Linked DNA regions of Homo sapiens: region 2 is linked to region 1. Evidence: fine-mapped expression QTL. A gene starts in region 1. The other region holds a variant in brackets. All regions are shown on one strand. Distances are between the middles of the regions.

What was found.
Region 2: its variant is fine-mapped to the expression of MIR34AHG in monocytes after R848 (Quach 2016, PIP 0.95). The same link has a PIP of 0.9 or more in monocytes, monocytes after LPS and monocytes after Pam3CSK4.

The regions. Positions count from the first base shown.
Region 1 is chr1:9,179,828-9,185,192 of GRCh38, forward strand. It overlaps MIR34AHG (MIR34A host gene), which reads right to left and starts at 2,511. Exons shown (of 2, transcript NR_132742.1): 1 at 2,180-2,511. LNCTAM34A (long non coding transcriptional activator of miR34a) reads left to right here and starts at 2,377. Exons shown (of 3, transcript NR_132738.1): 1 at 2,377-2,489; 2 at 3,806-3,980. RefSeq lists enhancers at 1,065-1,926, 1,839-1,988, 1,927-2,787, 2,099-2,448, 3,649-4,509 and silencers at 2,489-2,848, 3,159-3,248, 3,259-3,368.
Region 2 is chr1:9,161,048-9,166,412 of GRCh38, forward strand. All of the region lies in intron 1 of MIR34AHG (MIR34A host gene), which reads right to left. Among named protein-coding and RNA genes, the nearest start is that of MIR34A, 12 kb to the left of the region's middle. RefSeq lists silencers at 1,658-1,727, 1,878-1,947, 3,718-3,767 and an enhancer at 2,878-3,207. The variant T/C (reference allele first, on the strand shown) is at 2,973.

The DNA.
Region 1 (5,365 bases):
TTTTATCTCATGCGTCTACCAAGTAGGTCCTAACATAAGGGCAATTTTTATAGATGAGGAACCAAAGCCAGGAAAGGAAGTCCTATTTCCAAATTAGCACAGCTAGTGACAGAGACGGAGCTGGAAGGCGGGTCCTTAACTCAAAACCCGTATCCTTACTGGAACACTGGGGCCCCAGTGGGGTCCTGAGGTGCCTTACGAATGGAGAAAAATGATTGGCACCATGTATGTCAGTGACCCGCATGGCACTGCCTCCCAGAGCCTGCACTAAACAGTTCGTTCTTACAAGTATGTCAGACAGACAGCTGTAGCTGCAGTACTGATGTGTGCTCTCTGGGAAGGAAGGATCTGCCAACCAAGGCAAATTTCAGAGCTAGACAAGAAAACTTCCTTGTTTTCATGTGATATTCATTACCAAGTATCACGAGTTGATCTTCAGTCTCACCCGCTTTCTTGCAATTTCTCCAATGCACCAAACACAGGGCCTTTGCACTTACTAACCCTTCTGCCTGAAAAGCCGTCCCCCTCATCCTTCTGTAGGTTTCTCCTCAATGACTCATTGCGTATAGCAAGGACTCTGTAAATATTTGTCGCATGAATGAATGAGTCCCGCCTAGTTATTTTCTTATGCACAGATCTGATAACCTCTAGCTGGAGGTAGTGTATCCTATAACCAAGGGCAGCATCTTGTTCATCCTTGCATCCTCCTACACCCCCCGGCCCAGGGACCAGTTACAAGGGCAGGTGTAGGGCTGGGTTGGCAATTAGGTGACACAATCAATGGGAAGCACTGCATGGATGCTATGATCAGAAAGACCTGGGGGCCTGTCTAGGTTTAGCATTATTGATTTGCGATGTGTGCCAAGGGCAGGGGTGGGGTGCAAAAGTGCAGTCCTCATGGCCACCACACCAGCTAGCCAAGGGATCCTGGAGGCCCAAGAGAAAGCTGGATTGGGAGGGGAGAGCAGGGCAGTCCTGGCCAGTTTTGGCCAGCTTGGGGAAGCTCAGGAGACAGGCCACTACCCCATGTGGCAGTAGGTGCCAATGGGCTCAGGTACCAACTGATGCTGCCCCCAGCTGCTCCCTCTGCTCCTGGATAGTCCTTCAAGAGGAATGTTTGCAAGCACAGGTACCTTCCCTCTTCCTCAGCCATGACTACACAGCATTTGTGGCTCATGCAGGAAGACACAGGGGCTCAGAGGAGTGGCCATTTGTCCCAAAGATATCTCAGAACTGGGCAGAGGCAGAACTGGCTAACATAACTGCAGTGGGCCGTTTAGCCCCCTTAACATGACTTGGTATCTGCTAGAGTTTCACATGCATGTATGCAGAGATCCCAGCCACCTCTGGGCTCCAGGAGCCTAGTGTGGATGCAACAGGAAGGCCCAGGCTCTGGAACCTTCTGCAGAGCCTAGCTCATGTCCCCCACCTGACGCAGAAACAGGGAGGTGCTGAAGCATGTGCCCTGTCTGTGCTACAGGCCCCATCCACGTAACCTGAGAGAGGGGGCCTCAGGAGCACTGGCACCTGCTGCTCCAGGCCAGGAGCAAGGAACTCCAGGGACCACCTCCCCTCAGTCTCCTTCCCCACTGGCGGCTCACAGGCTGGACAGGGCTCCAGCCAGCAGGGGGCGCGCGCGTTCACCTCGGGGCCAGGTTGGCTGAAAGCCCCTCTCCCGTTCCCCTCTTCTAGAGCAAAAGTCTTCCAAAGCCTTGACCTCTTAGACAACGCTACTTTAGTGACCGAAGCACTTTTCCTTTCCCTTTCATGCGAGTTTTTTGCAACCATGGGTGGCTAGTATCAATGCCTCCACTTTCAAGGTGAGGAGAGGAACTGGGGAGGTTGAGCATTTGCTGCAATATCACCGTGGCCAGCAGCGCAAGAGAGCCAGGGTCCCCATTTGCCACCCATGAACCAGTCGGCCTTCCTCGCCCCACGCTGGAGATAGAGGAGGGAAGAAAGAACTAGCCGAGCAAAACCCCAAAAAAGGAATCCTTTCTCCCCAGAGATTATGAAATCAAAGAACATTTTGTTGCTTCTTGGAAATTCTTCCCCTTACGGAGGCTACACAATTGAACAGGGTTTTCATTATTATGACTATGATTATTAAAGTTGTTGGTCTAGTTCCCGCCTCCTTCTTTGCAAACTTTCGCACGGACTGAGAAACACAAGCGTTTACCTGGGTGCATGCTGGGACGGGGCGAGCAGGTAGTGCAGGCTTCCAGGCCTCTCCTGCCCCGGAGCTTGGCTGCAGGACTCCCGCAAAATCTCCAAATGCCCCCGATCTGCGTGGTCACCGAGAAGCAGCCCGGCTCGGAACAAGCCCAGGCAAGCCCAGGCAGAGCCCGCCGCCGGGTCCTCCTTCCTGCTCGTGCCACCAGGCCCCGGGGCCGCGACGCGTCTCTCCAGCCCGGGATCCGGGGAGCTGGGCTGTCCCCAGACCGACGGGACAGCGGCATCTCCTCCACCTGAAAAGGAAAGAGGACCAGGTGGGGGCCAGGCAGGGCGCATGAAGGCGGCGCCAGCACCGCGCGATCCGAATCACGTCGGTGCGGGGGAGGGGTCGGAGCCTGGCCTCGGCCTAGGGCGCAGATGCGGTGCGCACCGCAGGGGGGCGGCGTGGGGTGCGGGGCCAGTCCCGCCGGGCACGGGGTCCTGGTCCTCATCCCCTTCACCGCCGCCGCCCGCCTGGGCTGGCGTTTCCCCAGCGAGAGCGCGTAGTTTGCGCAGCGCCCCTCGCCCACGCCGCCGCTGGGTCGCGGGGCGCGCCTACCCAGAGCCGAGGTCCCGGACTCCCCGGCCATCGCGACCCTTCCGGGGACTCCTCGCCCCTTCGCGGTGGGACCAAGGCCCGGGTGGGGCCGGGACAGGGTGGTGGGGGGAAGGGGGACCGTACAAAAGCAAACAGAAACCACGGGGGGCTCGCCGCGACGCCCAGTCCGAGGGCCTCTCGCCTGGAAGAGGGAAGAAACCCACGTCCTGGACGCGGGTGTGGGGTCTGTCCCGGGTCAGGACCTGTTGTCTCTGCGACGTTGCCAGTCCGGAGAGCTCGGAGGGCCAATGCAGCCCCGGATTCAACAAGATGCGAAAGGACTTCTAAAGCCAGGAACCGGCACCCAGCCACGGCCACCGCCCGCCGGCCCGGCGCCCTGCCCCCACTCACTGCGCCCCCAAGTTCCGGCGCCGCGGGCTGCAGGGGTGACTTGGCTCGGCGTGCCTCGGGGCACGAGGCTCGGCCCCGCACGGCTCTCGGGTCCCGGGGGGCTGGGGTGGGAAGGGACATGGCCGGCGCGCGGCGCTGGGGAGCCGGGTGCGCCAGGCTGGGGACCTTGCGTGGGGCAGGGCTTGGCTCAGCCGAGGGGCCGCGGCTCAGCCCCCCTCACCGGCCTTAAAGGTTCCCAGAGACGCAAAGTCGGACGCGGGTCCTGAGCGCGGAGCTACAGGGGGGAGCATGGGGCAGCCCCCAAGGCGCGCTCCCTGCATTTCCCACCCTTTCCACGCTGCCCTGCGCGCACGGTCGGGCGCCCTTGGGGTGGGCAGGGAGGCGCGGGCAGGGGCAGCGCCGAAGACCTCCCGCCGCCATGGAGAAGGGGCTCCCCACCCACCCTCCTGCCCCAACCATTATAGATCCCAGCCAGTGCGCCCCGCGCCCTTCCGGGACAAGCTGCCCCCAGGACCACCGTGCCCCAGTATCAAGCGGACAGCAAATCTCTCGGTGGCTCCTTTTGTAAGGGTTTCTGCCCTCAGGGTTGTTACGGGACAGAAATGGTTTCATCAGAAACAAGCCCTCCTCGCACACTCACAGTTTGCAGGACTCCGAACTGGGCCCGCGAGATCTCCACCTGCGCAAAACGAAAGGGCGGATTCTCCTTGGACTCACGAGGCAACCGCTCCCCGGGGTGAGAACGGGGGACTCATTCCTCCGGCACTGGGAGAAGACGATTCTTTAGGAGGAGGACAGGGAAGCGAATGCTACCCAGGTGCGTAATCACATTTGGGCACCCTCGGGGGCCTGAGAGGAGGCCAGGGGTGACCTGCCCCCATTCTCACAGGGGAGGGGCGGTGAGCCTATTCTCACAGGTGTCTGTGATGAGCCCATGTTTTCCAAACTCCTCCGTGATTCTAGAACAGTGCTAGAGAAGCCGTGAGCCAGCTGGCAGGTGAGAACGCCCAGGTGCAGGTGGATGGCTGCAGGTCAGGCCTACTTTTCCTACACCTGTTGCTGGGGGGCAATCCCATACCCACTCTCAGTCCAGAGTGCCTGTCACCACAGGGCAAGTAGGTGAAGGGCTTCTCAGATCCTCAAAGACTCAGAGGGATAAAAGGAGGCAGATGGGTCCTAGAGGCAGCCCATGGCAAGGGAGAGGTCTGCTTTTTTCTTTTTTTTTGAGACGGAGTTTCACTTTTGTTGCCCAGGCTGGAGTGCAATGGCCTGACCCTGGCTCACTGCAACCTCCACCTCCCAGGTTCAAGTGATTCTCCTGCCTCAGCCTCCTGAGTAGCTGGGATTACAGGTGCCCACCACTATGCCCAACTAATTTTTGTGGAGACGGGGTTTCACCATGTTGGCCAGTCAGGTCAAATTCCTGACTTGAGGTCAAACTCCTGACCTCAGGTAATCCACCCATCTCGGTCTCCCAAAGTGCTGGGATTACAGGTGTGAACCACCACACCTGGCCGAGGTCTGCTTTTCTGATCAGACAAAAGTGGGTTCCAACCTTGACTCACTACATGGCCTGGGCAATGTGCCAGCATCTTCCCAACCTCTCCCTGCACCCCCAAATAATCTCATTCAATCTTCAAAAAGCCCTTTGAGATAAGTCCTAGGACTGCTGCATTTACAGGTGAGGAAATTAGGACCTGAAAGGTAAGACTGGGTTGGCCACAACCAACGCAGGGAGGAGAGCGGGGTGGACCCACGACCCAAGGTGGCGCCTGTCGGTTCTCCAAGCCCTCACTCCTCATGTACCTGCCATCCTGCCTCAACTTCGCAAATTGCTTACGCATGCTGAGCGTGTGTCCTCGTGTACACCGACAGCATCAGGCTCCTAGTATGGATGCAATAAGTACTGTGGAATGAATGAATGAATGAATGAATGAAATGAATGCACACCTCCCTACCCCCAGGGTGATGATAAGGACTGTGCAAGACAGAGTGGCTGCACACAGTAGGCCCTCTCATGCATGCAGTCGCTCTTCTAAAACATCTCTATGAAGCACCTGTTTTGTTCCAGGCATTGAGGGAACATTGGTGCTCATTGGTTCTCTGTTCCTTGCAGACAGACCTGGGAGCATTCTCCTTGGAGGTCCCCACCCTTGTGGGCTCTTTTTTTCTTGCTTTCCTTTCAGAGCCACCAAAATGCCT
Region 2 (5,365 bases), 19 kb before region 1:
GCATCTCTGTCACAAAGGGTTCGGTAACAGCAAAAACTGCTCCCCTGTCCTGTCCCTGCAAAGAATGCCATGCAACGGGGGTTTCAGACAAGCATTGTATCTGCTCTTACCCCTCCCCTTCCCAGTAAAATGTTTGGGTGATGTTCCATGGCAGGGAAACAGATAGAAGAAGGCACAGCCTGGTTCAAGGAAGAGGGCAAATGCGTTTTCAACGATGCCAAACTGGGCAAAACTAGTCCTAGTTTCAGGTGGGGTGTCCTGGGCTTGTTCTTCACTGAAACAGACCTGGGCTCCTTTTCTTCCTGTCCTCAGGCCAGAAATCCCCCATCAATTTGTCTAAGGGAACCATCACTGGCCAAGATACAGAGGGGGCAAGAACACAGGAGACCGAGTCTTCTTACCAGGAGAGGTGATTTCAAAACTCCAAACAATCTCCAAGTAAAATCCAGCCCCAGTAAGGGCCTGTAGCATAAATTTGAATTTTGGAGGGAGTCCAGCCCTCCACGTGTTTCTCTGATAGGAACTGGGAGAGCTTCCCCCATACAGCCAAGTCCTGTCGCGGAGCAGTCCCCCGACCACCCTGTCTCTGCCCCAACCCCTCCTTATGGAGGCAAACAGGCCACCAAACTACAGCCTCCCACGGTGTTCCATCAGCAGTCACAGGAAAACCCTCATGGCTTCTGGGCTTTGCCTCCCCAATATGCCACCCAGCACCCAGGCTCCATAAGAAATCTGCTTTCAGAATCAAAGACCTGAAAATTAGAAATGCTTTTCTAATGCCGAGGCCAAATTTCCTCCACACAAAACACCACAAATCCCTCTCCAAACAATTCGCGATTGCCCCCCAATCTCAATGGCCTTTTTCTCGGGTTGTAAATGTTCCCTAAAGTTGTCAGTGAATTAAACCAGAAAAAAAAAGAAAGAAAGAAAAAAAAAAAAGAAAGAAAAGGGTGGGTTACCTGCTCTGTGGGCCAAAGAAGGACCTTGGATTGATCGGATGTCAGCTCTGGTCCTGCAGCTTCCCCAGCCTGGCTCCACCTGTCTGACCTGTTGGGCTCGCTGCCGCCTCTGGGCCTGGCACAGCCGCAGGGAGCGGGGCTCGCTGCCAGCACCCAGGCCCCTCCATAGGTGTGCATTCACCTGCCAAGAGGTGCAGGCGCACAAGTGCCCTCCCCTCTCTGCTCCCACCATGTGACCTGCCCCCCAGCCGGACAGGCACTGGAGCATCTCCCTCGGTGTCACTGGAATTTCAAACCTGAAGCTGGCAGAGAGAAAGAAGAAAGGGAAGAAGAAGAGGGGAGGGGGACAGAGGAAAAATCCTGGCCCCCACAACTAACCAACAGTCCTTCCGTGATGTCGTGGAGGTCAGGCCAGGTGGGGCCAGCAGCCCCGTCACGGTGATCGTCAGGGTCAAATTCCAGGGCTGCTCTTTCCCCCTGGGTGGCTATTTTGGGAAAGCAGCTTTTCTCCAGCAGTGGACAGACTAGCTACTATGGACGCTGGAATCCAGAAGACTCAGAGCTCTGCCAGGGCCCAGCACAGGTAAAGGCACGGAGGACAGCCCTGGGAGCAAAGAGACAGTTTGCCCTCAGGTGCCCCTGAACTCCGCTCTGAGCACACACAATCCCACGGGTCCCTCCTGTCCCTACCCTTCAATAAGGATCACCCAGCACTTGGGGTCCTATCTGGCTTGGAAGAGGACGTGGGGCTTGAGGTATTACCCAAGGTGTTGAGGGGGTACAGCTGGAGGGGCAGGTGGCATCAGGTCTAGCGGCAAGGCCACTATTTTCCTGCCCTCCAGGACTGAGAGCCCTTAGCAGCCAGATTTGGCTTCTCTTCCCTTTCACTCCCTGGCCCCTGATGCCCGTCAAGCTCAAGTCGATACTGAACAACTGAGTACACAGCACAGCCTGGGTGTGAGGTCAGACTCTGTGCCTGGGATTGGGGCGGGTCAGGCATCTGACTCTGAGTTTCAACCACTGCTCAAGTTCAATCATGTGCTTCTAAGCTGCCAATCAAGCCAAACCTCTGGGAGTCACTGAAGAATAGAAACCGCAAGGCCAAGAGGAGGGTTGTGGTGCCCTGTGGTCTTGATAACTTGGGTTTTGAATGCAGGGTGGATGTTAAGATATAAAGCCCTTCCTAGGAAACCAGAAGACATCCTCCTAAGGAGGCAACAAAGCAGGGCAAGGCCCAGGAGAGGACCTGTGATGGAATTCAGACAGAGCCCAACCTCCCAGGGTACAGCCTTGTTCACGGGGCGCGGGAGGAGAAGGCTAACTGCTGCTGAGTGTGGCCAGGCAGGTCTTCAGCTACTGACATCAGGGCTGTGTCCACCCCTCAGAGCAGCACTGAGCTTGAAAGTGAAGCCCTGGCCGAGCGCGGTCGCTCACGCCTGTAATCCCAGCACTTTGGGAGGCCGAGGAGGGCAGATCACCTGAGGTGAGGAGTTCAAGACTGGCCTGACCAACATGGAGAAACCCCGTCTCTACTTAAAAAAAAAAAAAAAAAAAAAAACAAAAAAGTGAGGCTCTCTCTCAAAGCCAGCCCTTGCTCTGCTGCCCCAAGAGGGTCCTGCAAACACACGGGCCTTGTCCAAGGGGCCTGATGTGCAGGAGAGGGGCAGGGCCCAGGGCAGTGACCCCGAAGGGCTCCATCCTCGGACCTGACTCCTCCTTGCTCATAAACAACCAGGCCTTTGCCTTCCTCCCACACCAGTCCCCGGGTCAAAGGCCTTAAGAAAATCCCCGGTGCACTAGCCAACTCAGACCGCCCTGGCCCTTAGATCATCCGCTAGTCACTGGGCTGAGACCCAAAGGAGAGGGAAATATTTGGCGATTTCAGGGAACTGAACAGCAAAGGTGTTCACAATCAGACCACCAGCAGGAGTGCGGCACGCCCCTTAAACACTCTAAGGAAGTATTTACCAAGGCTGCTAAAAAAGAAGTTGAGGATTTCTGCCTCTGATTTAG[T/C]AGAAAATAATCTTTGAAATTTACATACAAAGTCCCATGATAAGTCATTTGGGATCCCCCAGAGGAGGAAGGCTGCTTGCGGTTAGACTGGGTGAGTCAACGAAACAAACAAATGGGCCCGATGAGGTCAGCTTTTTGGAAAAGGAACAAAGAAAACTGCACCCAAATGAGAGGCAGCTTACAATGGTGAAGCAGTGGTCACAGAAAATCCATTTCCAAAGCCTCTAATCCAGCAGTTTGGGGGATGATTTTGTCACCCAGGGGACATTTGGCAATATCTAAAGACATTTTTGGGGCCGGGTGTGGTGGCTCATGCCTGTAATCCCAGCACTTTGGGAGGCCGAGGCGGGCAGATCACTTGAGGTCAGGAGTTCGAGACCAGCCTGGCCAACATGACAAGACCCTATCTCCACTAAAAATGCAAAACTTAACTGGGCATGGTGGCACACACCTGTAATCCCAACTACTTGGGAGGCTGAAGCAGGAGAATCACTTGAGACTGGGAGGTGGAGGTTGCAGTGAGCCAAGATCGCATCACTGCACTCCAGCCTGGGTGACAGAGCAAGACTCTGTCTCAAAAAAAAAAAGAAGAAAAAAACCCAGACGTTTTTGATTATCACAATTGAAGGGTAGGGAGTGCTCCTGGCTTCTAGTGGGTAGAAGCCAGGAATGCCGCTAAACATCCTACAGTGCACAGGGCAGCCCCCACCACAAAAAATCATCTGGCCCCAAATGTCTGTAGCACTGCCACTGAAAAACTGTTCTCATCCACCGAGAACTCTCTCTCTCTTCCTTGCAAGTCCTGGGCAAAAGGTTGTTTTTAGTAGCCCAGAGGGCCATGGTGGTGACAGCTCCTCCCTGGGTGATGCCAGGCTTCAGGGGGTCAGCATCTTTGGAGGGTCCTCTAGGCATAGACCCCAGCTTGGGCAAGCCACTTGGCTGCCCCTGCATGGGTGACCCTGCCTGACTGCCCCTGGCTGCAACAGCCCCTTGCCGAGGCTTCTAGACCCTCAGAACCTCCCCCCTGCTGCTCTGGCTCTCAAGGTCCCACAGTAAAGCCACAGGAATGAGAAGGAGCGATGACAGTTCTCATCATCCCGTCATCGTCACAGCAGACTGGTAGGTGCTTTACAGGTGACAATGAGCTTTCACATTCGTTGTCTCACCTGAATACATAAAAGCCTCACCCACTGTTAAAACAATCTGAGTTCTTGACCTGCCAGACCAGTGGAACATGCAGAGGCCACCTGTCCCCGATGAGGGCCTGGGGGAGAGGGAGCCGTGCATTCATCTGGGGAGACCCCAGAGTCCAGAGCTGGGCAGAGGTGACAGCAGCCTGTCTAGGGGACCTGGGGGAAGCCAGGGTTCTGGCTGCTCCACGGCAGGCCCTGAGGTGGAGGGTCTAGACCCTGACCAGGCACCAGTCCTGCTGAAATGAGGCTCCGGAAATAGACGCACATCACACTCCCTGGAGTATTTTCTGGGCGGCCACAGAGTTCAGCAAATAGTCAACAGAAAGCATCTCCAAGAAGTGGGTGAACCGGAAGGACACATGCCCAAGGCTGATATGGGAGGTGTTTGGGGACTTAGGGAAGAAGCAGGACAGAAATAGGCCCAGCTCATTAACTGCATCTACATATGAATTGCTTGACTTTTTTTTTTTTTTTTTTTCAGAGACAGGGTCTGGCTTTGTCACCCGCTGAGCTGCAGCACAGTGGCATGATCATAGCTCACCAGAGCCTCAACCTCCCCGGCTCCAGCCATCCATCTTACCCCCTCAGCTCCTCTAGTAGCTGGGACCACAGGTGTGCACCACCATACCACGCCTAGCTAATCTTTTTTTTTTTTTTTTTTGAGACGGAGTCTCACCCTGTCCTTCAGGCTGGAGTGCCGTGGTGTGATCTCGGCTCACTGCAACCTCTGCCTCCCGGATTCAAGCAATTCTCCTGCCTCAGCCTCCCAAGTAGCTGGGATTACAGGTGTGCGCCACCACACCTGGCTAAATTTTTGTATTTTTAGTAGAGACGGGGTTTCACTATGTTGACCAGGCTAGTCTCGAACTCCTAACCTCAGGTGATCTGCCCATCTCGGCCTCCCAGAGTGCTGGGATTACAGACGTCAGCCACTGCACCTGGCAACCCGGCTAATGTTTAAAACAATTCTTTTAGAGACAGGGTCTTACTATGTTGCTCAAGCTGGTCTCAAACCTCTGGGCTCAAGTGTTTCTCCAGCCTCAGCCTCCCAAAGTGCTGGGATTACAAGCATGAGCCACCGCGTCTGGCCCGTTTGAGTTTTTATGAGTATTATTACTTATTTTATAAATCTAAAAGAACATTAGGAAAAAATAAGAATAAGGGCAGAATATCTCGTATCCACACCCCCTTTCACGGGAT